4 linked regions of the Homo sapiens genome follow. The protein of the gene in region 4 interacts with the protein of the main gene of each other region in a pairwise test. Each region holds a gene or a part of one and is shown on either strand. Other genes may lie near its edges.

Region 1 (6,890 bases), on a different chromosome or scaffold from region 4:
ATGTATAAAACAAGGTCATATCTTCAGTGGCAAAATGAACATGAGGATTATGGAGAAAGTAAAGAAAAGTGATTGGCTATAATGGACAGTTTATGCTTATGGGTTGTGGTAGGCAGAATAATGGTCTCCCAAAGATATCCATGACCTAATGCCTGGAACCTGTGAATATGTTATCTTAGATGGTAAAAGGGACTTGGAAGATGTAATTAAATTAAAGATCTTGAGATGAGGAGATTATTCTGGTAGGCACATTGTAATTACAAGGATCCTTAGGAAGGTAGTAGGGTCAGAGTCTGAGAAGGAGATGTGATGATAAAGCAGAGTCATGGGGGAAGATCTGAAGATTCTACCCTGCTCGGTTGAAGATGGAGAAAGGGGCCACAGGCCAAGAATGCAGGTGGTGGCCAGAGGCTGGTGAAAACAGGGAAACTGATTTTCCCCTAGAACCTCCAGAAGAAATGCAGCCCTGGTGACATCTTGATTCTAGCCCAGTGATACTTCTGACCTACAGAACTGTACAATAGTAAATTTATGTTGTTTTAAGCTGGTGATCTATGGCAAGTTGTTACAACAGCAATAAGAAACTGACATAGGAGTAGTAGGAGATAGAGAGAGGGTGTTGGATTAGGGCAGTCAGTTGAGAATTTTGGATTTTATCTTAAAGGCAACAAAGAACCACCAAAGATTTTTGACTAAAAACAGATATAGTAAAAATGATGTATTAGGAGGGTAGACTGGAAGTTGGGTTCAAATTGAAGACAGAAAGATAAGCTCTACAGTAGTGTGCATGGATAAGTATGGTGATGAGTCCCCAGGTTACAAACGGACTCTGAATTGATGAGAAGTTTCCAAATCTGAAAGAGATTGCTAAAGAAGAGCCTACAGAATATAATGACTGATGGGAAAGCAGTCCAATTTCAGATCCCTCATGTGTTGCGAAATGGGCATAAATATAGTGCACACAAGGTTTCTAAATATTTTAAGTCTCTTCCTGGATTCACCAATGTATATTTCACCAACATATATATGAAATTGTAACTTGTTAAACTTCTCTGTTACTTCAAGTTTCACTCTTGTCTTTTTAGAGGATACGCAAACCTCATTTCATCATTTCTACTCTAGAGACTGCTTATTTGGTAGAATGAAAAAGTACAACTTGGATAGTAAACTACTGTATTCAGATTTTGCACAAAAACAACAAAATACAATCTAAAAAAATTTGAGTTGGAGAAGAATCATAGGTCAAATATGTGTAAAAAGTAGTGGCAGTAGCTGGTAAGTTAAACCACTCACCGGCTATAATGCTGTTCAGCAGTTACCACTGTTTGGATTATTGGACATTTCCTGAGTAGTGGGAAATGTTTGGATGAAAAGCCAGTAGCTAATTATTAACTCTCTTTACATTACCTCCCTTCTGAAAAAAGCTCTGCTTGCTGATAATCAACTTCTAAATCATCTTCATAAAACTTAACAATGCTTGGCCATCTAAGGCAGGTCTAAACTAGCTGGCTCTACCCTGTTTTTAGTGGTAAAAATGCTAAATTAACTAGTACTAATAACCATGCCAGCAGTAAAAACACTGAACAATTGAATATCAATGATATGTTAAAGCCAGCTGTTAATTAACCCATTAATAAGGTGATTTTCTTTCACACAGAGATTCTATCGATACACTTTCCCCCCACCTTCTTCCATTTTTCACCATTTCAACTTTCCCCCACCCCAATCAGTAACTGGTAAAAAAGATCTGACCATGAGTTCATTATTGGGAAAATCTTACAAAATGCTATATTTCAAGCTTTTTCTAAATTGGATACAACTTTGCATTTCCACTATGTTTTTAAGTCCCCTCCTTAAAAATACACATTTATGTACAAATAACAATACTATATTTTGCATCTTAAAAGTAGACTGCCCTGTGATATTTACAGAGAAAATGTTCACCATTCCTTTCTACGTTTCAAAATATCCCTCCTCTTGGGTGCTGACATAGAAACATCATTTTGGAACAAGTGGCAGTTTCGTCTTGCATCCCTGCCTTTTCTTGTTCTGCATGGGAAAAAAGCCTAAATAGTAGACAGCAAGAAAATTCAATAATGTCCACTCTGGAACAACCCGAGGGTAGGAATTTTGCATATGTATCAGGCGCCCTATAAGCATCACCCTCCCATCCCATGCCATAAAAAAGGGTGGAGGGGAGGAAATATTCAGCAAAGTCCTAATATACAATGTGTATTGTAAAAACAACTTTAATTTTAAAAGTGAATTCTACCTTCTAAGGTTTTCAGTGCTGCCTCACTCCTACTCCTAGGGTGAAGGACTTTGGAGAGACACGAAAACTAATTCATATCAAAACCAGAACGCGAAACTCCTGCCTGCCCCGTAGCCTGGCCTGAGTACCTGGAATGCCCGAAAGTGGATGGGCGCTCTCTCTTCCTATCTGGCCCATGGCTCTGAGGACCTCCCTCCCCGCTCCAAGCCCCAAGCCCGCGAGCAGGAGATGCTCAGAGAAAAGCGAGTCGCTCACCAGTGAGGAGCCAGCAGCAGGCGACAGCGACCCCTGGGCGGGCGCGGGGCCGAGGGGCCATGGCCGGAGCAGCCTCAGCGCCAGGGGGCCGCGCTGGTTCGCAGGGCAGGACCGGGCGCGGGAGCTGCGCTCTCTGGCTGGGCCACTTATCCCGCTGCCGCGGTTCCCAGTCCTCTGCCCCAGTGGCAGCGGCGCCCAGGAGCGGGAGAGGAGTGATTTCCTGTGTTTTCGTCGAATTCCTCTAAATGCGCTCCACGCTTTTCACATCCCAGACGGATTGCCACATCGCCCGCCCCTTCGCGCTCTTGGTCTCTGAAATCTCACTGGCAGCTTCCCAGGCTCTGTCCGAGACATGGACAAATAAAGCCAGCTTCGCGGGTCCGTGTTTAGGCTAAAGTCCACGGGCTGTAGAAGCAAACCTTAAAGGGACATCTGCCTTTCATTGAGAGGGTGATCTCGTTCTCCGGGCCAAATCCCCTAAGGTGGTAGGAAGGCGGGTAAGGGCTGGACCTTCGGGAGGGTGTTGCCAGCCCAGTGGCTCCGCCTTCACACCCCTTACTTCTCCCGGCCCGGGCAGGGAGGGCGCTTTGACAGTGCCTGGGCGCCCTTAACGGGAGGCAGCTTTCCCGGGTCCATTGCGCAGAGGGATTAGGCCGTCTGTGAAAATGCGAGGATCTGGAATCCCCCCTTCCATCCCCTGCGGACACTTGAAATTCACCGTGAAGTCGTTTTGCACGAAAGGGGGCGTCCCCACCACCCCGACAGGCTCCACTGAGGGCTTTGCTTTCGCTTATGGGGGGGTGGGGGGGTTGCTTCGTTTATGGTAATTCGTGGTTAAAGGGTGGTTGCAGATAAGCTTTTCTTTGAGATAACTAGGATAAGGGGAGAAAAGGAGAAGCAAGACGGAGGAAAAACAGTAAGAGGGAGAGCGAGAAGGGAAGAGAGGAAGAAAAGCAGCCTCCTTGGAAATGGAATGTGTGTGGGCTATTTTGTTTAAGTGAATTAGGATGTTTGTACGCTGGTAATTGAATCTAATAAAGAACTCGGGGCACTACTTTATTTTTTTCTTGCTTGAAACTTTCACGAGTGAAAATGCATTAAGAGTCCAGAAGTGCTTAGGAACTTGCAATGCTTCCCTTTCCTGGTGAGTTGAACAACCTCTCTGAGTCAAAAGCCATATTCACCCTAGCTTCAACCAATGCTGGCTATTTTCAAAATAGCTGTGTCTTAGCGGTTTTGAGAATTTCAAAGACAGAAAGAATAAGTGGATTTGTGTTTAGAGGAATCTGAGGGAAACAGTTCAATTCAATTCTTCAACTCAACAACTAATTGAGCATCTCTAGCAGAACTAGGGCTAGGCAGGACAAGAGTGCCACCCAAAGGAGGGTTCGTTGAGCAGAACGCAACACAGGTAGCACAGAACAGGTAACACGAGGGACAGGAAGGAAGAAGCCCACAGGGTTCACTGGATACATTGCCAGATAGAGGATCACAGCAACTAAAAGCTGGAGAAGACAAAAGTTGAAGAAGTTTAAGGAGCGTCAAAAATGGGGTGGGCAGACCCAAGGAGGTTGAAGGCCATCAGATCTCAGTATGTTGACCCATTAATCAAGAAATTCCTTTTCTATTATGTATCTGAACTGATTCACTATTTAGTAAATACATTAAAAATCTCGTTCTCCCGTTTTTAGTTTTTATAATGTCATTTCTCAGTTCTGTCTTCAAATTTACACAAATGAGTCTCTAGAAAAATTGTATTATGTTGGGTCACAGTTCAATCCCATTGGACTTTACTTAAGTTCCTTTGTTTGTGTTCAATGCTCTCATACCCTGCCAAGGAATTCATTTCCTGTGTATATCTCGTTTCCCTGTTGGTAGTATCAGTTATGTCTTATGCCTCTCAGTATGACTCTCTGTGCTTTGAACAGTAACCAATAGATATTGATTAATTCGTAGACATTTAAAAATCATAGTAAGTACTTTCCCAATGATATTTCTCCAAATTGCTTAGTTTTCAAAAACATATAATAGTGTGTCTATATATACACAATCATGTGTATGTATGTATGTGTACATATATATGTACAGCATATACATACATATGCAAATACATATATGGCATTTTAGCAAATTGCAATATATTTCATTAGAAAAAACAAAAAGAAATTGTAAAATATTGAAATAAAGTAGGGTTAACATATAATATGTTCAAGTTTACAATTACTGGGAAATTTACCTTTCTTCTGGGGGCTAATATATAATTTCAATTTTAATATTTTTATTTCCTCTAGGACTTACAAATTATTGGTGATAACCATCACTAACAGTGATATTGTTACAATTAATTTTCACAAGTTACAAATTTTATGTTTACATGTTTACATATTTATGAATCTTTTATATGTCTAGTCAATACAAATGTAGAGACTGAGAGATAACTATGGTTAGAGAATTAATTTTAGAATCAGTGCTTATTTTCTGAACTTCAATAAACCCAAATACAAATAAATGTCAAGCCGGTTATTTTCTTAACCAATTTTATTCTGACTGACAGAAAGACATGTCATTGAGTAAAGATTTAGAGAAGACAGAAACTTGCCCAGAGTCACAAACTAGTTATTGATATGAGACACTTGATGACAAATGTTTCAGCTCTAGACTTTATACTACATACTTTTCTATTTTAAATGAGACTTGATTTGATCAGATCTCTTTAAGGGTTTGGAAGCATGAGTAGGAGCATGAACCTTATTGTGAACTGCACACGCTTCTTATGAGAATCTAATGCCTGATGATCTGTCACTGTCTCCCATCATCCCCAGATGAAAACGTCTAGTTGCAGGAAAACAGGCTGAGGGCTCCCACTGATTCTACATTATGGTGAGTTTTATAATTACTTCATTATATATTATAACATAATTATAATGGGAATAAAGTGCACAATGAATGTAATGTGTTTGAATCATCTTGAAACCGTTTCCCCTACCCCTGGTCTGTGGAAAAAATGCCTTCTATGAAACCGGTCTCTCTGCCAAAACGGTTGGGGATGGCTGCACTGAAAGATTAGAGACTGAACTGATTAAGAATTTGGAAAGTGGATGTCTATGAAATGAGGCAAGAGTAATTGAGATTATTAACCAATAATCTCAAAAAGAAAAACATATACTTAAAACCAAAGTATTCTTCTTGGAGTTAATCTAATATACTGAGTAAAGTAACTAGAGTAAGTAAGGTTCTGGAGTTACGCTGCTTGGACTCAAGTCCTGGAACCACAATATAGTAGCTGTGTGATTTGGGAAACGTCATCAAGTTTATCTAAGCCTCAGTTTTCTCAAATGTAAAGTGGGAATGAAAATACTGTACTACTTCTGGTCTGAGAATTGCTGTGGGGATTAAATGAACCGAGCCTCTGAGCATTTAGCACAATGCCTGGATTAAAGTAAGTGCTCGGTTAGTATGAATCATTCTTCTCTGTAAATAGAAGAATTGGTATTAAACAGACCATGTAAACAGGGCAGGCTCTGCGTGTGGTAGACCCTGTAGGAAGTGGTGAAATTTGATGGCCATCAGAAGAGGAACTTTAATGTCCGCCTAAAAATATCTCCATCAACTCCTATTATTATTTCTGGAATCCTCGCTTTAAAAATATTTACCTTGGATTAGGGAATTATCTTGAAGATAGTTCTATAAAATGGGTATGCATGAAGACATCAGAACCCATTATAACGTTCACATGAATTTGCTTTTCAAATTGGCTGGCCGTCAGAGGTTTTTTTTTTTTTTTTTTTTTTTTAATTTTTTTACAAGAGAAGAACATTCCGCTAAGAGGTTGGGGGAATAGAAGAGGTTCTAGAACTCCGTGTCTAATGTATGCCAGGGTTCTTTAGCAGTAAGATTATAGGTTCTCAAAGCTACAGGATAAATAAGGTACTCCCACCTGGGTAGTGGGGGTGGTGCTGATTTTACTCAAAAATAAATAATTTAAAAATTGTTGTTTGCTAAAATAACAGATTTTTATAAGAAATATTTTTAAATCATGTTTTCTTTTTAAAAGTCAAATATGAGATTTTAAATACATTTTAAGGTAGCATCAAAGTGTGGTTTTACCCCAACCCCATCCCCTCCACTCTCAGGTGTTAGGGGTAGGTGGAAGTGTACAGAACTGCTTCCGTTTTTACAAAGATTTTATGAAGATTTGGATTTTTAAGTTTTAGTATGTAAGCACTTAGGGGAATATACCCCAAAACAGTGGGGCTAACTCACAAAGCTAACTCATATGGAAAACTTAGTCTAGTTCAATAATTTTTAATTTTCTGGCATATATTGGGCTCCAGGGCTATGTTCTGCAGAGGCAAAAATGGAT
Region 2 (3,820 bases), on a different chromosome or scaffold from region 4:
CTGCAAGGTTGCAACTTACCAAGCAACAGCCTGAGCCCCCAAATTCTGTCTGATTGGTTCCTGGATTCTATCATGTAAAGTGAAAGCTAGGGTTCCCCCGCTGCCTCCCATGGCCTGGGATGGGAGTTAAACTTTTGCCTGTGTCCAGCGTTTCCATCTTCTTGAAGCTGGAATTATGGAGCTTGGGGGAAGGGAATCAGAACTCTACCCCATGTCCATTCTAATCAGGGCCTCTGTATCTGCCGGGAGGAAGAAAGACCTATTCCTCCAAATCCCAGACTTCCCCTAGTCCACTGATCTAACATCGTTCACCTTTAGATTTCACCTAACACTCCATGAACTACATGCTGGCAAGAGGTGGTCTCATAAAAGCAGCAGCTGAATGAGCACACCCCTTCCTGCTAGTGAGGGCCATCTGCCACCCCTGGATAATCCTACTCTTCTCTTCCCTCAGTTCTGGCACTCAGCACCAGCCCAGTAAATGGTCGTGGAATGAATAAGTGAATGAATTAATGAATACAGAACACTTTTACTGCAACCAGTGGCAAGACATTCAAAGAGAAACAAACACACATTTACCCACAGAATTGAAGCTCACTTCCCAATTTTTTTTTTTTTTTTAGCAACCCATAGTAAAAGAGCAACTCAAAAAAATATGCACTGATTTTGAAGCAGCTCCAGTGAGAAATGCAACTTGCTATTTGGGCTAGTCAGGTTCCTGGATACCACTGTGCAGCCCTTTGGCACAACTTGCTGTGGAGCTCTGTGGTCAGAACCGCTTCTCTGCCCTTCCATGACGCCACACTCACACCCGGAGGTCGCTCCACATCTCCCAGTCCTTCAAGCTTTTCGTTTTTTTGTTTTTTTTTAAAATTGTTCCCAGAAGCAAACACATGGCCTGAACAATCCCTGGATTGTAAAATAAACAACACTACAAAGGAAGACAATACCAAATGAGGCTCCGTAGTCACCATACCCAGCAGCAACCGAAAAAGGTTTGGTTTCTTGTCTGGGAACAGCACTCACCCCACACCCCAAAGGAACTGCTTGGTCCAAAAGATGGAGAATATGAGCAACAGAGTGACACTGAGGATGACGGCCATCAGGTAGGCAAAGATGCGGAACTGAGGGTTGCGGAAACACTCCCTCAAAGAGTGGTGGCTGGGGATGAGGATGGGCGTAGACACGGTGGCAGAGGCCGTGTCTGGGGGCGGCCCAGTCTGGCCCCCAGGCTGGGGGCCAAGGTCCAGCGTGTAGACTTGAGGCTGGCGCAGGAAGTAGCGGCTCTTGGGCTGGTCCTTGAGGCACAGCTGATGGCCTTCCAGGATGACATGGTGGGGCTCCAGGCGGAGCAGGGCGAGCATGGCAGTGTCCGTGGGCAAGTCAGTGACAGGCTGCCCTGAGGCCAGCACTGTGGGCTGGCGACAGAGTGGGCACAGCAGGCGGCGCCGGGCTGGAGTCACAAGGCTGAGGTGGGCCAGACATTCCACGCAGAAGGAGTGGCAGCAATCCAGCATTTTGGGGGTATGGAACGTGTTGTTGAAGGGGTTCCAGCAGACGGGGCACTCAGCCTCAAGCTCCCGGCCCTGCTGCTCAGCCATCCTCAGCCACACACGGGGAGGCTTCGCGGGAGACGTCCTGGCAGAAGGGGGAAAGGAGCAAAGGAACAGCCATGAAGTCCCATCCTTGTGCTTGGCCTGGGGCAAAGTGTTCTGTGGGTGTTGAAAGGTGTAATCACCACGTTTTACTTAGGTTCAAAAGCGTTTTGTTCTTGATCACCAGTTCCTAACCCATCGAGTTGAGTCAAATGCTCCTACAGCCTCCCCTCTGTCAAGGTGAAGGCCTGGGCCACCCCTACCAAGAGCCCCCAAGAGAGCCGGCATTGGAGCAGATGTCGCCCTGGGCTTTGGAGCTGGACGCAAATGCTCCTTATGGTCATTGTCTGTGCCCTTGGCTGCCCTGAATCCAGGGAGCTGGGGGTAAGCTGCAGTCTGCGGGTTTTGCTACAGGACAAATGTTTCCTTCCCTGCTACCTCAAATCCCTGACTAGCGCAGAGATGGGTTTTGTGAATTCCCTGGTCTGTCCCTCCTATGGGGACAAATGCCAGCCCTCTTTCCCTCCTCCCCTTGAGCTAGAGGGCCAACCCTCCACATCCTACTCACCCAGTCCTTGGCCTGGCAAGGAAGCCCCTGGAAAGGCCTTTCTCCTTACCTGGAAGCCTTGCAGAAGCTTCCCTGCCCCAGTCCCCAGATCAGCCCTTCCAGAGCCTCTTCCCCTTCCAGAGCCTCTTCCCCTTCCAGAGCCTCTTCCCCATCCTCTGCCTACCCTGGCTCCTCCTCCCTCCCTTTGTCCTGGGAAACCTTCAGGGCACGCACCTGGGCTTCTGTGGGCTCCAGGGTGGTCAGGCAGACTACTCTGGAGGGCCTGAGGCTCCAGTTGCTCCCTCCCCTGAATCGGCAAAGCTTTGGGAGACTGCCTTCTTGCCACCAACCCAGGGGCCTGTCTCCATGGCAGCATGCACGCAGCACCTGGGGCTGCCAGGTGGCCCAGTCGGCAGCCTCTTGAGCACACCTGCTTGGAGCCAAGGCCAGAGAGCTTCCTGGGGGGTGGGGTGGGGAGGAAGATGGGGGACCTGAGTTCCCCCCAGGGCATGGCAACTAATTGAACCTGGAAGCCAAGCACCTGTGAGATTGTGGGCAGTCCCTTCAACACCTGGAGTCCCTGGTCTGGAAAGGTAGGGTGGCAATTTCGTCTTTGTAGATGTGAAGAGGGTAACTGAGTCTTCTGGGCTTCCTCTCTCTGGGGCCCTCATTTCTCTTCGAAAGTGGCTGGAACCTCCTCCTTGCACAAAGGGGCTGCCTGCTCAGCACTTTGGTTGCTGTGAAAGTCACCTACTTCGAAGCTTAAGAGCTCCGACTATCAGATTCAGTCCAGTCACCCGCTGATCTTTTAATGTGCCTAAGTAACTGCAATCAGCGTGTACAAACCTCGCTGCCTTCTGCTTTGTTCTTAGCACACAGCTGGTCAGCCTTCTGAGATCTTAGAGCTGGCCATCCCACCAACCTTAGGGAGTTAAAGCGGGGAGTTGGAGGGAGGCGCACTCCAGCCCAGCTTCTCCGTTTCAACCAGAAATACTTGGCTTTTCTCTGTTTCTCATATGGGTCATTCGAATAATTTGAAGAGTTGATCTGCTGGGGAAAAGAAAAAGTTTAAAAACCAATTCTCCATCTGAACTACTCACTTTGCAGATGAGAGACAAGAAGTGACTCACCCAAAGTCACCCAGCTAGTTAATGGTGACATGGGACCCATGTCTTCAGACTCATGGTTTTCGTAAAGACAGAAGGCTGCATCCATGCCGTCCCCCTACTCAGTGCGTGTTACTAGCTAGATAATAAGTGTTTGCATGTGATCAGGAATCCTTCACGGCCAGAAGACTCATGGTAGAAATCCAGGAACTGTGGAAGAGGGGATCTGGGGGAAGGGAGTCTCCCTAGAGCCCCTGATATGACATCATCTACCCCGACTGAGCCGATGTCTGAAGCAAAACCTGCTTATACTCTCGGACCTGTGGCTTCCTGGTTTTCTTCTAGACCTCTGGCACTGCTCCAAACAGGGAAGGAGGAAATGAAGATATGCAGAGGGAGATGGAGCCCTAAGCGAAACTAGGGTAGTTTAGCAGGGCTCTGCACCAGTGCTTTATTCTGCAGTCCATTCATCCACTCGGACATTATTGAGTGCTTACTCTAGCCCAGGTGCTGTGCAAGGTATTATGGTGAACAAAATAGACATTGTCTTTGACCTCATGACATTTAGAGTG
Region 3 (7,036 bases), on a different chromosome or scaffold from region 4:
ACCCTCTACTTTTTCCAAAAGCAATATTAGATATGCCTAGTAGTCTATAAATAGCTCATCTGAAGCAGTTGTACCCAAACTTTTATGGTTTGATTTTATGACAACATCTATTTCCTCCCATCCCTGCCTAAAAGAGTTAAAGGATGCATTATAATTTTGAAATTAATTAAAATTAGTTGTTTAAGCTGGGTATGGTGGCACGTGGCTATATTCCCAGCTACTCGGGAGGCTGAGATGAGAGGATCCACTTAAGCCCAGGAGTTCGAGGCTGCAGTGAACTACGATGGTGCCACTGCACTCCAGCCTGGGCGACACAACAAGACACTGTCTCTAAAATAAATAAATAAATATTTTTAAAAAATTAGCTGTTTAAATTTTGTAATATCTTTTAGCTTAATTATAAATACACTAAGGCAGAGGATCTAAAATTCTAGTAGGCCTAAGAATCCCTTGAGGCAAAGTGTCAGCCTCGCAAAACATACAGAATTTTGTTCCTACCTTTTGACAGTTTGCTTGAAAGAGTCTGGCCTGCAACCTAAAATACTATTCTAAAAACCATGACTAGAAATCCATAATAAGAGCAACAACAAAACTAAATTGCTTATTAAGGCTAAAGTTCTTGTCTATAATAGTTGAGTAAATCAGTGTTTCACATCCATACTTTTAAATGTGTACTTCAACTTCTATCCTCATGATGAATTCCTACTCATTGAATAGTTTGTTAAAAATGCACACCCAACAATTAACCTTTTGAATAAAAAAATACAATCACAAATCTTAATATTAGATTTGACAAATACTGTTTAGCATCCAGTAAGGATATAATCTATCAGTTAAAACTATTTGATATAATCTATCAGTTAAAACTATTAGATTGAGGAAAAGAAGTATTATGTTTCTTTTTTTTCTTTGAGATGGAGTCTCGCTCTGTCCCCCAGGCTGGAGTGCAATGGCGTCATCTTGGCTCACTGTAACCTCGGCCTCCCAGATTCAAGTGATTCTTCTGCCTCAGCCTCCCAAGTAGGTGGGATTACAGGCGTGTGCTACCACACCCAGCTAATTTTTGTATTTTTTAGTAGAGATGGGGTTTCACTATGTTGGCCAGTCTGGTCTTGAACTCTTGACCTCAAGTGATCCACCCGTCTCAGCCTCCCAGAGTGCTGGGATTATAGGCGTGAGCCACTGTGCCTGGCCTGAAAGTATGTCTCTTTAAACAATTATTATTATTATTCTTATTTTTAATAGCGATGAGGTCTCACTGTATCGCCCAGGCTGGTTTCAAACACCTGGGCTCAAGCGATCCTCTAGCCTCAGTCTCCCAAAGTGCTGGGATTATAGGCATGAGCCACCATGCCCGCTGGAAAATGTGTTAATTGACTGCCTGAGACACCTAACCATAACAGATACTTATGTTTTGCTCCTTGTCTTTAGGAAAATTGAAGCTTGGCTATACCTGGCAGGTTCAGTTCTTCTAATTCAATCACCAAGCGTCTGCTGCTATAATAGTCCTTCATCAGCTTCTGTAGGTCTTCAGGTAACCCTGGTTTTGGTTCTGATTTTGCAAGAACATCAGTAATTTTCTTCTAAGATATGAGAAAGAAGAAAAATGGGACGACATATTTTAAAATGGCATTTGGTTGGAATAGGTTAGTTCCTCTGGCATTTAAACGGCACATAGCTTTTGGTGTTAGCCAAGTGTGAATGTGGGTTTTAATAAATACATTTGAGAAAATTCACTAAATACTTCTTGGACATAACTATTGCTTTGAAAAATGAAAAAATGATCTAGAAAGCTCCCTGTAACTCTTGGTCTATGACTTCCAAGATAACTAAATTTTTGCAGGCATCTCCATACTGGGGTATTATTTTCTGTTAAAAGTAAAGAAATCTCATTGCTATGGAGAGCTCTCTTTTAGCCCTAGATGATTTATATTCCTGTAGGATTAGAATTTTGAGAATTTCTTGCCCAATCTGGTTTTTGAGGTGCTGAGTCTTAGTTTGGATTTCTGTCATTAGTGTAAAACCCGCAGTAGGAATCTGAGCATAGGGGCCTACTGAGAAGGGGACTTAACACCCTCGATTCTCAGGTCTTGGATAACTGATGGTATTAAAGTGGCCCTATGCAAAGTAGAAAAAATATTACAGGAAATACTTTCCAACATCGATTTTGATTTGGACTCATTTGTGTAGCATGTATTGAATGCTGCAGTAGTAGAAACCCACAATCATTCATTTATTTCCATCATAAGCTTCCCTTCTCACTTCCTTCTAATGTTCCACCAAAGATCCAGAAGGAGCATTCCCCACCCCTGACCCCAGATTTTCCCCCTCCTTCTACAATATCCTCATTTCTAGACACTTGCCAAGAATGGTCAAGCCTCTGTCAAAGAAATTAACTTTTAAAAATATGTCATCAGTGGGCACATTTTAGTGTGACCTCAGTCAAGACTAAACTATCTAGCTAGAGTTTTGACCTTGAGCCACCAAGAACTTAACACTCCAGAAGGCCATTAGTGTACAAATTATCAAAGCGAAGTTAAAGTCACTTATTTAAGGACTTGCCAAACCTCAGCCAATTTGGCATCTCCCATTTTCCTATTTGGCCATTTGTAAGAAAAGAAAACATATGCACACACACTCTCAGTTTTCTAAAAGCTTGCTGTTAAGTAATAGGTTTGAGTCCATCTTCTTTCCTCTAATCCCAATCGTATTTCCTCGGCTGACTTCAGCAGCAGACCCCTCTTGGCAGGGAGAGAATTACACTGCTGTTTTCACAACTGTGGGAGAAGGTCATAGCTAACCATACTTTCTCCAAGGCTGAGCCATAAAAAAGTTTGTATATGAGAAAGAGTCTTTCCTGTGCTCACCAGCAAATATCAAAATGCAAGGTAGGGGAGCTTTTTTGACCTAATTTATGGTTCCAAATTAGTCAGAAGTGCCTCATACTACCTTCATCTGCTTATTATTTTCTTTTTATTCATACTTTAAGGTATAAGGTCTTAAAATCCGGAATGAATAGAAAAAGGAGGTTGGTATATTTCTTTTCATGGACAGAGCCAGAAGGGCCGGGGGAGGATAGCTCTGGACTCCTTCTAGAATTAGAAATCTATGTCTGACATCTGACCACACTGAAAACATAGGGTGGGTAACAAAGATATTTGGCACTCCACAGGACTGAAATAGGAGTCAGAAGAATTTATTCTTAGCTCCAACAGAAACACTTATTAGTAGTGACCTTAGGAAAGTCACCAAACCTCAAAGAATCTTACAATGTCTGCATCTCTTAGGTGGGGATTACAATAGTTGCCTCAAGAAAGTATGATATATAAAAATGTGATGGAAACCATGTGGGGCCATACAAATTTAAGAAATTATTAATATTACCTTTCTTCTTTTCCTGGTCTTGGTGGTATTCTCTTTTCTTTCCTTTGGTTGTATCAAAAAACATTCTTTAGGCTATTAAGAAATACAAATGAGAACATTTTAATCTTTTCATGATAAAGTGTCAATTAGTGGCATGAACCCCAAAGTACTTTCTGCCATGCATGTATTCTTCAGAGTATCTTGGTAATATTCTACAGAAAGAGAGATGCTGGAAGATCTACCGTAGGTTACTATGCAGCGGTTGGGCTGAGAGAATTTGAGAAAGTCAGAAAGCGCAGATGACTTAAGACTGGAGAATCTTTGAGCAAGATCAAATTGTGAGTGAGTGTATATGTGTGCTTGGTGTGGAAGTGCAGTGTATTGGAGATTGAAGACAGTGGCTGAGTTTGTATAATACAGCAGAAATCGATGTGATTAAAATTAAGATGTGGTAAGACAGTCTTTGACTAGAGTGACTAAGGTTTTCCATGAACTAGCTGTGTGTGAGCCTACATTTCCAAGTCACTGGTTTATTGTTTTGTATTATACATTCCTTTCCTCTTTTCAATAAGCATAGAAAATCCAAAGTAAGATATATTAACTTACGTTTTTATAAACCAGCTGCATCAAATGCCTTTGCTATAATGACTACAAAATGAATGTCTTTGCTACTAGTCTGATAACCGTCTCAGCACCACAGTATCTAGAGTAATCTGTTTTGCCTGTTGCCTTGACCCCTGAGTACCCCAGTTTAGTACTATTTTTACCCTGAGGGCTTTTTTCTAATGTAGAAAAACAGGAAATTTGGACTAAGACCTTGATTTATAAAATAGAATGCCCCAGATTCCATATTTATTAATCATAAGCAGGAGTATAAAATGTTTCCTGTGCTGGACCTTTTATGCAACATTGTCAAACAAGTTGCCAAGTAAGATATAAAATGTAAGTGAAAACTTATTCTGAGTTTTCCTTGATTAACTTTCCATTCCAACCAGAGAATACTCAGTTTAAACTGATAAGCTACTAACTAAAGCAATCTTGTCTCCACTGGCTCTGCTAAAATGATTACAGATGAATCTTTCTATGAAAGCTTGCAGACAGCCTGCAGATTGAGAATGTCTATGGCCTGAAGTCAGAGAGAAAGATATAATACTACATAATTTCTTCAAGACATGGGGCCAAAGACCCGCAGTTTCAAGATTCTCTTTTAGTTATTACAGAAATAGATTTAAAAAGTTCAGGATTAAAGTGACATGGGAAATCTTGAAATTTTAGTTTCCTCTAAGATAAAACAAAAAACCTGCAAAGAGCAATTGCATCATAGCTAAAGAAAAGAGAGATATGGCTTCTTTTATTTAGAAAGTTAAACTGTCTTGTGGATGTAGATACATGCCAATTTGATGCTGGTACATGCCAATTAGAGACTGTGCCAAGGCCACTAATATGTCACAGAAGCTGCCAGATGGCCATAAGAGTCCAATTACAAACCAGGCCAGTGTTCAGCTCATGTTCCTAAGGCAAAGGCCGGGATATGATTAGCAGATCCCTTAAACTATACTGCATTATCTCTACCAGTATCAAGGTTTTTGGGAAGCGTATTTAGAAACCTGTTACAATCTATTAACGTATGGAGGTGTTCTCGAGGAATATGTTCAGTGTACTGGTTGCATTTGTGCTAGGTTTACAAAGCCAATTAATTAAAACATGACATAAATTAAATCTAGAAATGAGCTCAATTGTAAGAATATGGACTCTTTAATTCTGGGAGAAAAAATAAAAATGTAATTCTGAATCATGCACAGGAAAACGAAACATGCTTGATGAACTGCTTTAGCCATGATATTGCTTCAGTTAAATGATAGGTTCAAATTCTTACATCATCCTAAAGGAAATGCAAAATAATCTTTGGTTTTGGAGACTAGTTACTTTAGCTGGCTGTGGTAGGGTGCCAATGAAGAGGCCAATTTTATGGGGTCAATTTCCATAGAGGTGAGATGACTTTATGGAGAAATCCAAATCCACAGTATTGAAAATTCTTACATTTAGTTAACTGCTTTATGAATGTTGCTGTTTACCCTCAGGGAGACTAGGTAGGAAGATGTGAAAGAATCCGGCCAAGCCACTAAGCATTTCTGGAAACCAATTCCAACACTGTGTGACTTTGACAGTTGATAAGTAATGTCATTTCTTTATATGAAATGTAGCAATTTTAAATATGTAGTCTGAAGAATCACACTCCCCTAAAAAAATGTTGCTTTTAAGGGAAGCAACTAGAGCATATTTTCAATTCCTTAAAGTATCAAAAATTACTTTAAGAATGATTCTCCTGGTTACACATGGCAAATGGACCTCAAAATACCAGTAAACTGAAAATAAAGGGCATTGAAAAGGACCTATTGAGCAGGATCTATATAAAAACCAAGAAACCAGGAGAGAGAACAACAGTAATGGAGAGATTTCAACAACTTTTTGGAAAATGGAAAGTGGCTGGAGCTGGATAGAAGTGACTTGGCACAGAGAGAAAGCTAGCAGCTGGGTTTCAGAAGGGGTGGAAGCTAACAATAAGTAAGTCTTTGACCTGCTCGACTCTGAGAAGGTCCAGTACTTTGGAGGCACAAAGTACTACAGAGAGTAAAGGGTTAAAAAAGAAGAGATTGGCTGAAAGTTTATATTTAGAATGATTAGCTACTCCTGTCCCCCACTAGGTGATATCTCCTACCCTGGTAGCCAAGCAACTATCCCATTACTGCTTCCTTTCACCTTGCCTGTCCTGCCAGCCGACTGGAGATCTATTCTCTGAAGACATCAAGAGGATCAAGGCTGGGCCAGGGGAGAAAGGGCAGAGGCTGAGGCTTGCCTCCATTTCCTGTCCCTATTCCATGCTTACATATTGCAGGCAGGAGACTACTGAATTCCTCTTTGGAAAAATGGAATGGCCTAAAAGAAATACCATCAGAGAGTGACGTTTGGGAGTTCCATAGTAAAAAATCCAGCTTGTTATCCTATCACCCTACCATGAATACACTAATTGACAAACCCAACTCATCACTGTTTCAGTGTATCTCTCTTCAATAAGAATGGATAGCTAAGGTTCCTCAGACATCTAAGGAAAGTCTCCAACACAAGAGCAAATAAATAACAAAAAGAAAAATGAACCTAGAGAAAAGTGGGATGGTACCTCAAAATAATGACAATTCATATCCTCAGAGAGATAAGGGAAGATTTTGCAACCATGAAACAAGAACAAGATGCTGTAAAAATGGGAAAAACAGTTAAGCATTAAAACAAATAAGAAATGTGGAATAAAAATAAACGAGGAAGGCTTGAAGATAAAGTAGAGGCAATGTCCCAGAAAGAGATGAAAAATGAAAAGAAAAAAGTGGTGAGAAAATCAGAGAATCAGCCCAAGAGATTCAATTTTTCAATAAATGATATTATAGAAAAAGAGATCACATAAAACAGTAGGGGGCTTGGCATGGTGTCTCATGTCTGTAACCCTAGTGCTTTGTGGGGCCAAGGTGGGAGGACTGCTTGAGGCCAGGAGTTTGAGACCAGCCCTGGTTACATAGTGAGACCCTGTCTCAACAACAACAACAACAACAAAAAACAGCCAGGCGTGGTGGCTCACACCTGTAATCCCAGCACTTTGGGAGGCCGAGGCAGGTGGATCACG
Region 4 (7,036 bases):
CCTCAGGGAGGCAACCAGAGAAGGGCAACCCCAAGGCTGCTCTTCTCCTGTTTCCCAAGTGTACAGGCCAAGGAGCAGCTCAGATGGGGCTCCGACGATGCCTCCTCCAGGCAGTCTTCCTGATGCCCTGAAGAGTGACCAGGCCCTCCTGGGGTGCCCCTAGGGGACTGCAATGTGGGTTGTCCCCCGCGCTACATGAGCCCCAGAATGTAGTTCCTTGTTCACTCCTGTCTCCCATATTGCTCAGGGCTCCCGGAGGGCAGGACTGAGCCTTCACTCCTGTCACCAGGGCCTGGCCAGGCACTGATCTAGGGACAGGCCAACCTGCTCTGTGCACTTCTCTGAGCCTGGGACATGGGGATCCCTGGGCGCAGATGACCTGAGGCCCATAGTGAGCACAGGCTCCACGGTATGTTTAAATCTCCCCTCCACCCTTCACCAACCACGGGACGCTGGGTCATCTACTTAAGCCCTCTATCCCTCGGTTTCCCATCTGAAAAACAGGGCAGCAGCAGAGCCTGCCTCCCAGGGCTGTTAAAGAGGCAAGTGGGCTAATGCCCTAAAAAGATGCCTAGCTCGGGGAAGTGTCAGTTAAATAGCTACCCTTGTTGTTACCTATTGGTATTTCAACTGATGCTCACCCACCTATGTTGGCTGGATGGGGGAGCTAAATAACAGATTCTCGCAGCAGCTGCTACTGGCAGGGACCCTGGGCCCTGCCCTCCCTGCGGCCACTGGGCATGCAGGGCCAGGCCTGCTTTGGCCACATCAGTGACCAGTGACTGGGAGACGGGATGCCCACTGCCCCCAGCTGCAGGCCCAGTGGTGGGGACTGGGCTGTCAGGCGGCGCCCAGGGCTTGCTCTTCACCACCCCCACATTGGAGACCGAAGCCAAACAAACCACAGCTGCTTCCTGACTCTTCTTATCTGAAACACACAGTCTTGGACTCTGTCCTTTGCGGGCTGTTCTCATTACCCAGATTGAAACCAAGCTTCCGAGCCCTGGTATCTGTTCCCCTGAAGCCGTGAGGCTGGGCCCAAATCCCGGGGTCAGGCCCTCATCCGCCCAGAGGCCTCCAAAACAAAGCAGAGGAGCACAGTGATCTTTTAAGGAGATGCAAAGACAAACAGGGCCCAGGGCTGCAGTGAGTTTCCAAGGGCACGCCCAGCATAAGTGGTACATGGGAGCCTCAGCGCGCTGCGACCACAGCAGGGAGGCCCCACGGCCCTGCCAGTGGGGTGACTGGGACAAGAAGGAAACCTGGACCACTCGAGCACCTCGTCTCTCACCCGCTGGGTCTCTTGGGCAAGTCACCTAGACTCGGTGTCTCAGTTTCCCCTCTCAGGACTGCCATGAGGAGTCCTGCAGGCACATGGAAAAGGCTGGTGTACACAGCAGGCACTCACCATGGGTCTGGGGCTTCTGCATGGGCAGGAGGGGCAGTGATGAGCTGGGACTGAGCCTCCCTGGCAGCGGCCTCTCTAGCAAAAGTGAAGGCTGACCGAGGCCTGAGTCAGCTGGAGAAGGTGCCCAGGGGCCGGACTCCCCTGGCTCACACCCACCACCCTCACATCACCACCCAGGAACCAACAAGCCTGTCAGCTCTGCCTGTGAACACCAAGGGCCTCAGCTCTGCTTTGAACACCCAGGGCCTCAGTCAGCTCGGCCTGTGAAGACCAAGGGCCTCAGTCAGCTCTGCCTGTGAACACCCAGGGCCCCAGCATCCCGCCTCAGGATGGAGGTGAAGGACGCCCGTCCCTCACAAGTCTCCCTCAGGGAGAGGGGAAACTCAGCACCAAGGGCTTCGCCCGCATGTGGCCTCACTCCCGAGAGTGTGGCTGTCACCTCTGGCCTGCCACCCTAGTTGGTTACAGAGGGCCCGTGAATTTACTCCACATGTTTGGACGCTGTTGCAAATGGAAGCTGTGAAGTGCTGCAGAGGCCCTGGGAAGAGAAGGACTGCAGAGGAGTGGGGGCACCAGCACCACCTCGAGTGGGTGCCACAAAGGTGACAGGTGCAAGGCTCTGAGGAGGTGGGTAGCCCCACTGGATGGACGCCTGTGCACAGCATGGGAGCTGCACAATGCTGAACTGCAGAGGACCTGGCGGGGGGACCCTCCAGGGGTGGCTGAACCCCGTTCCCACCCAGCTATCCCTGAACATCCCCAGCCTGGGCTTCCCAGCCTGCTCCCTTACCGGTGCCGTCTGCTCTTTCCCGGCTCCTGGTATGCTGGGCCTGGGGTTCAGCGGGGGCCGCTGCGTCTCTAACACCAGGGCCAGGGCCAGCCTGGGGTCCGGGTGCTCGGGGCCTTTCGCTCCTCTCCTGCTCCAACGAGGCTGTGGCATTGAGTCGGGAACGCGCCTGGGGCTGCGGTGCTGGCGGGGGCTGTGGGCAGGAGGGGCCCAGCGGAGCAGTGTTGGAGTCCATCCTGCCTGGAAGAAAAGTCAAGGTCAGGCACATCCAGCACCGGCAGAGCCCGCTCTGGCACTTAGTGTCTGCTGGAGACAGAAAAGCAGAGGGAGGCAGGTGGGAGCTGCCAGACACTCCATACAGGATCTCGCTGACACTCAGTACAGTCCCCATGGGCCAGCACCGCTTCCAGGGAGGAAACCATGGGAGGACACTCACCCACGTGACTCTACAGATGGCATGGCACTTACAATCTCAGACCTGCACATGCCGAGGCCTGGAGTCCCTGCCTCACTGGGCATGAGCCACACAACCCTGGCCTTCCCTCATCCAAGAAACGGGGATGATGATAGCAACACCCAGAGCCCACCCATGTGGAGCCTGGCTGCAGGGGGCTGAATTGGGCCCCACATCATGTGCCCACCAATGTCTGTGAATGTGCCCTTATTTGGAAAAACAGGTCTTTGAAGATGTATTTAAGGATCTTGAAATGAGATCAGCCTGGAGTAGGGAAGCCCTGGCTCCAAGAGCTGATGGCCTATAGGAAGAGAAGTGTAACAGAGCCATGCGGAGACGGGTGACAGTGGCCAAGGAGCAGGAGGACCACTGGCCACTGCCAGAAGCTGGACAGAGGCGAGGAACTGAGCCTCCCTCAGAGCCTCCAGGAGGGACCCACCCTGCCCACACCTTGACTTCAGACTTCTGCCTCCAGAACCATCAGAGAACAAACCTCTGTTGTTTTAAGCCACCAAGTTTCCAGTAGTTTCTTACGGAAGCCCTAGAAAACTAATACGCTGGTACTGAGTAAAGTTAAGTAAATATGAGAGGGGAAGGGAGCTGGGGAGGGGAGAAGAGGGCAGGGGAGAGAAGAGAGGGAGCCAAATGGGTGGAGCTGGGATTCATACCCAGATCTGCCGCTCCACAGCCCCCACCCCAGGCCCAAGCCACAGCACCGAAGTCAGAGGACTGATGCCCCAGAAACCAACACAGAGAGTAAAAAGCAAACTAAGGCAAACAGTGCGGTGGGGGCATCAGAAGAGACTAGAGTGAGCAGAGATCCCGTGACCCGTGTCACGCCGGAGCAAGGGCTTTATTTTATTCAACAGAGGCCCTCACATGCTGCTTAGCAACATGGAAAAACACCACCATCCCTGTAATGAAGGACAACCACCGGCCACAGACACAGAGCTGAAAGCGCTGCAGGATCCCGAGCCCCGGACCCGGATGGGCCCTGGATGAGCGGCGTTAGGGGTGGGATGCAAACCCCTGGCACTGCTGGACCTTGAACCTGCTGCTGTGTGAGGCTGTGGAAACTTTTCCTCAGATTCCCAAATGACCCTCCCAAGCTCAGGGCCACAGCCATCCTCTGAGGCACAGAGCAGGGAGAGGCTGGTAACAGAGAGTCTCGCTCCCAGCCCCAAGCTGCCGCAGCGCTGTACTCCTGGCTCTGTGCCCACCAGCTGTGTGGTCCTGAGCAGCCCACATCCCGCTCTGCACCTCAGCCTCCTCATCTGAAAATGGGGACGGGGCAACTGTGAGGACCAGTGAGACCAGACACCATGGGCAGCACGAGGGAGTCCCCTGGCCACCTCTGAACACCCAGCGCTTGGCACTGAGCAGCCAGGTCTGAGTAGGTGCCCAGAGGTCACTTTTGGGGGCAGCTGTGACTGGAAGAGTCAGGAGTGGCCCCAGGCTCCACACACAACAATTTCTGCTCCATTCCCGCTGCAAATGAGTCCTAAAGATCAGACTGGTGTCGCTCAAGAACTCTGCAGATTTCAATCCACACGTTCCTCCCTCAGAGGGACTGAGCCCTTAGTGTAAAACATCCCCCAGGTGCAAACCATGCATGGTCAAGCACACCCCCCCCCCCCACCCCACCCCCGTGCATCCCCCAGGTGCAAACCATGCATGGTCAAGCACCCCCGGGTGCATCCCCCAGGTGCAAACCATGCATGGTCAAGCTTGGGAGCCTGCTCCATCCTGTTTCCAAGTTCCCAGCTCCCGGGAACTGGCACCTTCCACAAAAGCAGCCATTTAACTGCACGTGCAGACCTAAGTGTCCCCTTAGTCAGCTGTGGCAGAGAAATACAGGATCGCACGTAGAACCCACACGCTGTGGGCAAACAGAACCACGGTCCTGCAGGCCACCGGACCACCTGAGATGGTGAAAAGTCAGGTCTTCAAATGACACGTGGCCTTGTCTACCTTCTCTCCCATGGTTCCCACTGCCCCGAAGTCAGGTGTCACTTTCTCAGACAGAGAGAGAGGGCACCTTTACTGAGGGCTGACCTACGCCAGGGCATCTCTGCCATCAAGACCAACGGCTCTGTTCTCTGTACTTGTCTTTTCTCATGAGTTTCTCGTATGGCCCTGGAAGGTAGGTCCTATTGTCGTGAGTTCCTCGCATGGACCTGGAAGGTAGATCCTATTGTCATCCCAGAGTTATAGATGGGGAAATGTTTTATCCTTCAACCTCACCCCACTTCACAGACAGGAACCCAGGTGCAGGGAGGGGAGGGACCTGCTCAAGGTCAAACAGCTCCAGGTACCAGACCTGAAATTCAAATCCAGACCTGCCCAATTCTAATGCTTCTGCAAGCTCATTTCTGAAAAAGACGACTTTGAAATCAGACCGCCATGCCACTGCACCCTCTCTCCCGGGGCCCATTCACTGCAAAACACTGGCTACCCTTCAACATCAGCATACAAATGCTGACCTCCACACTTCTGTTTCTGCAGGGCCCTCTTCCCGGAATGCCTTCTTACCCCCCTCCCCCAGCCTAGACCCTAAGCACCCTTCAAGTCAAGAGCTCCAGCGATACCTCCTTTGTGGGAGCTTCCAAGCTATGTCTGTCCCGAGTCCCTGTCTTCCTCACCTACTCAGGTAAACACACAGCACTCAGGCGATCACCTCTCCATCAGAGCCCTCCCTCTGCTAGAGGTTACAGCTGGAAGCAACATGGTGTGGGGCGTCGGTTACCCTTACTAGTGGCCACATGACCTCACTGTGTCTGTTTCCCCATATGTAAAATGGGGATAGCACCTCCCACATAGGGGTGCTATGGGGATTACGTGTGTGGCAGAAGAGAAAGCAAACTATTGGGCATTAAAAAAAAACTAAGCCGGCCAGGCGCGGTGGCTCACGCCTGTAATCCCAGCACTTTGGGAGGCCGAGGCGGGCAGATCACAAGGTCAGGAGATCAAGACCATCCTGGCTAACACAGTGAAACCCCGTCTCTATTAAAAATACAAAAAAATTAGCCAGGCGTGGTGGCGGGCGCCGATAGTCCCAACTACTGGGGAGGCTGAGGCAGGAGAATGGTGTGAACCCAGGAGATGGAGCTTGCAGTGAGCCGAGATCGCGCCACTGCACTCCAGCCTGGGTGACAAAGCGAGACTCCGTCTCAAAAAAAAGAAAAAAGAAAAAGGAAAAGAAAAACCCTAAGCCATTACTCCCAGGTGCTAAACAAAGGCATGTTCAGTTGGAAAACACTTCATAAAAGGAATTTCAGGAAAACAGATTCTAGCTGGCCTATGTACCATGTATGTCACACTGCAGTTAAAAAAAAACTGTTTAAAGTAAAATCTCTGGTTAGTAAGAATGGATGAATACAGGAGGATTAATTTTCAGGTTCCCTGGGGGTTGGCCAAGTCTGGTTTGGATCAAAGGGCTTGTTATTTCAAAACAAGCACAACAATTCCTGGTCATGGTTGGTCACAGGGACAATGAAGATCAGAAAAGATCTCCCGGTGGAAGGACCTGCTGTCTGGTCCTTCCCTCTCTGAGTCTTCCTGCATGTTACAGCCACTGTGAGCCCTGAGGGCAGGGCTGCAGCTTATCCACTCGGAAGACCGGCTGCCTTGCCAGGAATACGTTAAGCACTTAATGCATGTGGGCAGAAGCCTGAGGCAGCCTGGCCTAGGGCAGGAGCACCATCCAGGCAATAATGCTGTGGGACCTTAGCAAGTCCCTCCCCCAGACCCCAGCATCCAGGCATCTCCAGCTGCATCCACTCTGCACCCTCAGATCCCCACCTGCACGGTGGGGCACTCAGCCCCAACTCCCTACTGGTGACCACAGCAATGGCTTAGAAGCCGTCACTGTGTAAGATCCACAAAACCAAAGTTGCTAGCATTCTTTCCTCATGAGCAATGAGGCATATTTTTATCCCGTCCAAACACAAACACCGGCACCAAGGAGTTCAGCTGAGAGGCCGCCACCTGGAGAGGGCTGCAGGCACCATGCATCCACTCAGACCCGCAGCAGAATGACCACACGTGGCCTTCTGCCCTAAGGGCTCTGGCCCTCACCCAGGCCACCCCCATTCTGTTCTCTCTGGGGGGGCAACCCCATCTCCCAAGCCAGTGCCTCAGAAACAGCCCCTGTGGGAAGCCAAGATGATGTTCACTCTCTCTGATCAGTGCCTCTGCCTCCAGGATGCCAGTCCAGGGGAGTCACTGGAGATGCCCTCGGGGCTCACACACAATGTCCATCATATGGCACTTTCAGCACTGTCCAGAAAGGGGCTGGCTATAAAGCCTACACCCCTCCATATGGTGCAACGCTGTACAGCTGGTAAACGTGACCTCGTACATGAACGTTTTGAGACAAGGAAAAGGT

Evidence for each region.
Region 1: the proteins of WFS1 (region 4) and PELO interact in binary tests that used the Homo sapiens proteins (3 or more experiments, as listed by UniProt).
Region 2: the proteins of WFS1 (region 4) and RNF183 interact in binary tests that used the Homo sapiens proteins (3 or more experiments, as listed by UniProt).
Region 3: the proteins of WFS1 (region 4) and CMSS1 interact in binary tests that used the Homo sapiens proteins (3 or more experiments, as listed by UniProt).

Annotation. Positions count from the first base shown.
Region 1 is NC_000005.10:52,784,052-52,790,941, reverse strand, and holds the start of PELO (protein pelota homolog), read right to left. Parts: upstream 3,027-6,890; 5' UTR 2,589-3,026; coding exon of another isoform or gene 2,528-2,588; intron 1-2,527. Other genes in the region: ITGA1 (integrin alpha-1 precursor), read right to left, coding at 2,528-2,588. UniProt on the Homo sapiens protein: Component of the Pelota-HBS1L complex, a complex that recognizes stalled ribosomes and triggers the No-Go Decay (NGD) pathway.
Region 2 is NC_000009.12:113,296,584-113,300,403, forward strand, and holds the end of RNF183 (E3 ubiquitin-protein ligase RNF183), read right to left. Parts: exon of another isoform or gene 3,273-3,820; intron 3,193-3,272; 5' UTR 2,989-3,192; exon of another isoform or gene 1,639-2,988; 5' UTR 1,602-1,638; coding exon 1,023-1,601; 3' UTR 510-1,022; downstream 1-509. UniProt on the Homo sapiens protein: Acts as an E3 ubiquitin ligase catalyzing the covalent attachment of ubiquitin moieties onto substrate proteins. Triggers apoptosis in response to prolonged ER stress by mediating the polyubiquitination and subsequent proteasomal degradation of BCL2L1.
Region 3 is NC_000003.12:100,156,850-100,163,885, reverse strand, and holds part of CMSS1 (protein CMSS1), read right to left. Parts: intron 3,702-7,036; exon of another isoform or gene 3,457-3,701; coding exon 3,385-3,456; exon of another isoform or gene 3,182-3,384; intron 1,584-3,181; coding exon 1,454-1,583; intron 1-1,453.
Region 4 is NC_000004.12:6,272,850-6,279,885, reverse strand, and holds part of WFS1 (wolframin), read right to left. Parts: intron 2,436-7,036; 5' UTR 2,431-2,435; coding exon 2,199-2,430; intron 1-2,198. UniProt on the Homo sapiens protein: Participates in the regulation of cellular Ca(2+) homeostasis, at least partly, by modulating the filling state of the endoplasmic reticulum Ca(2+) store.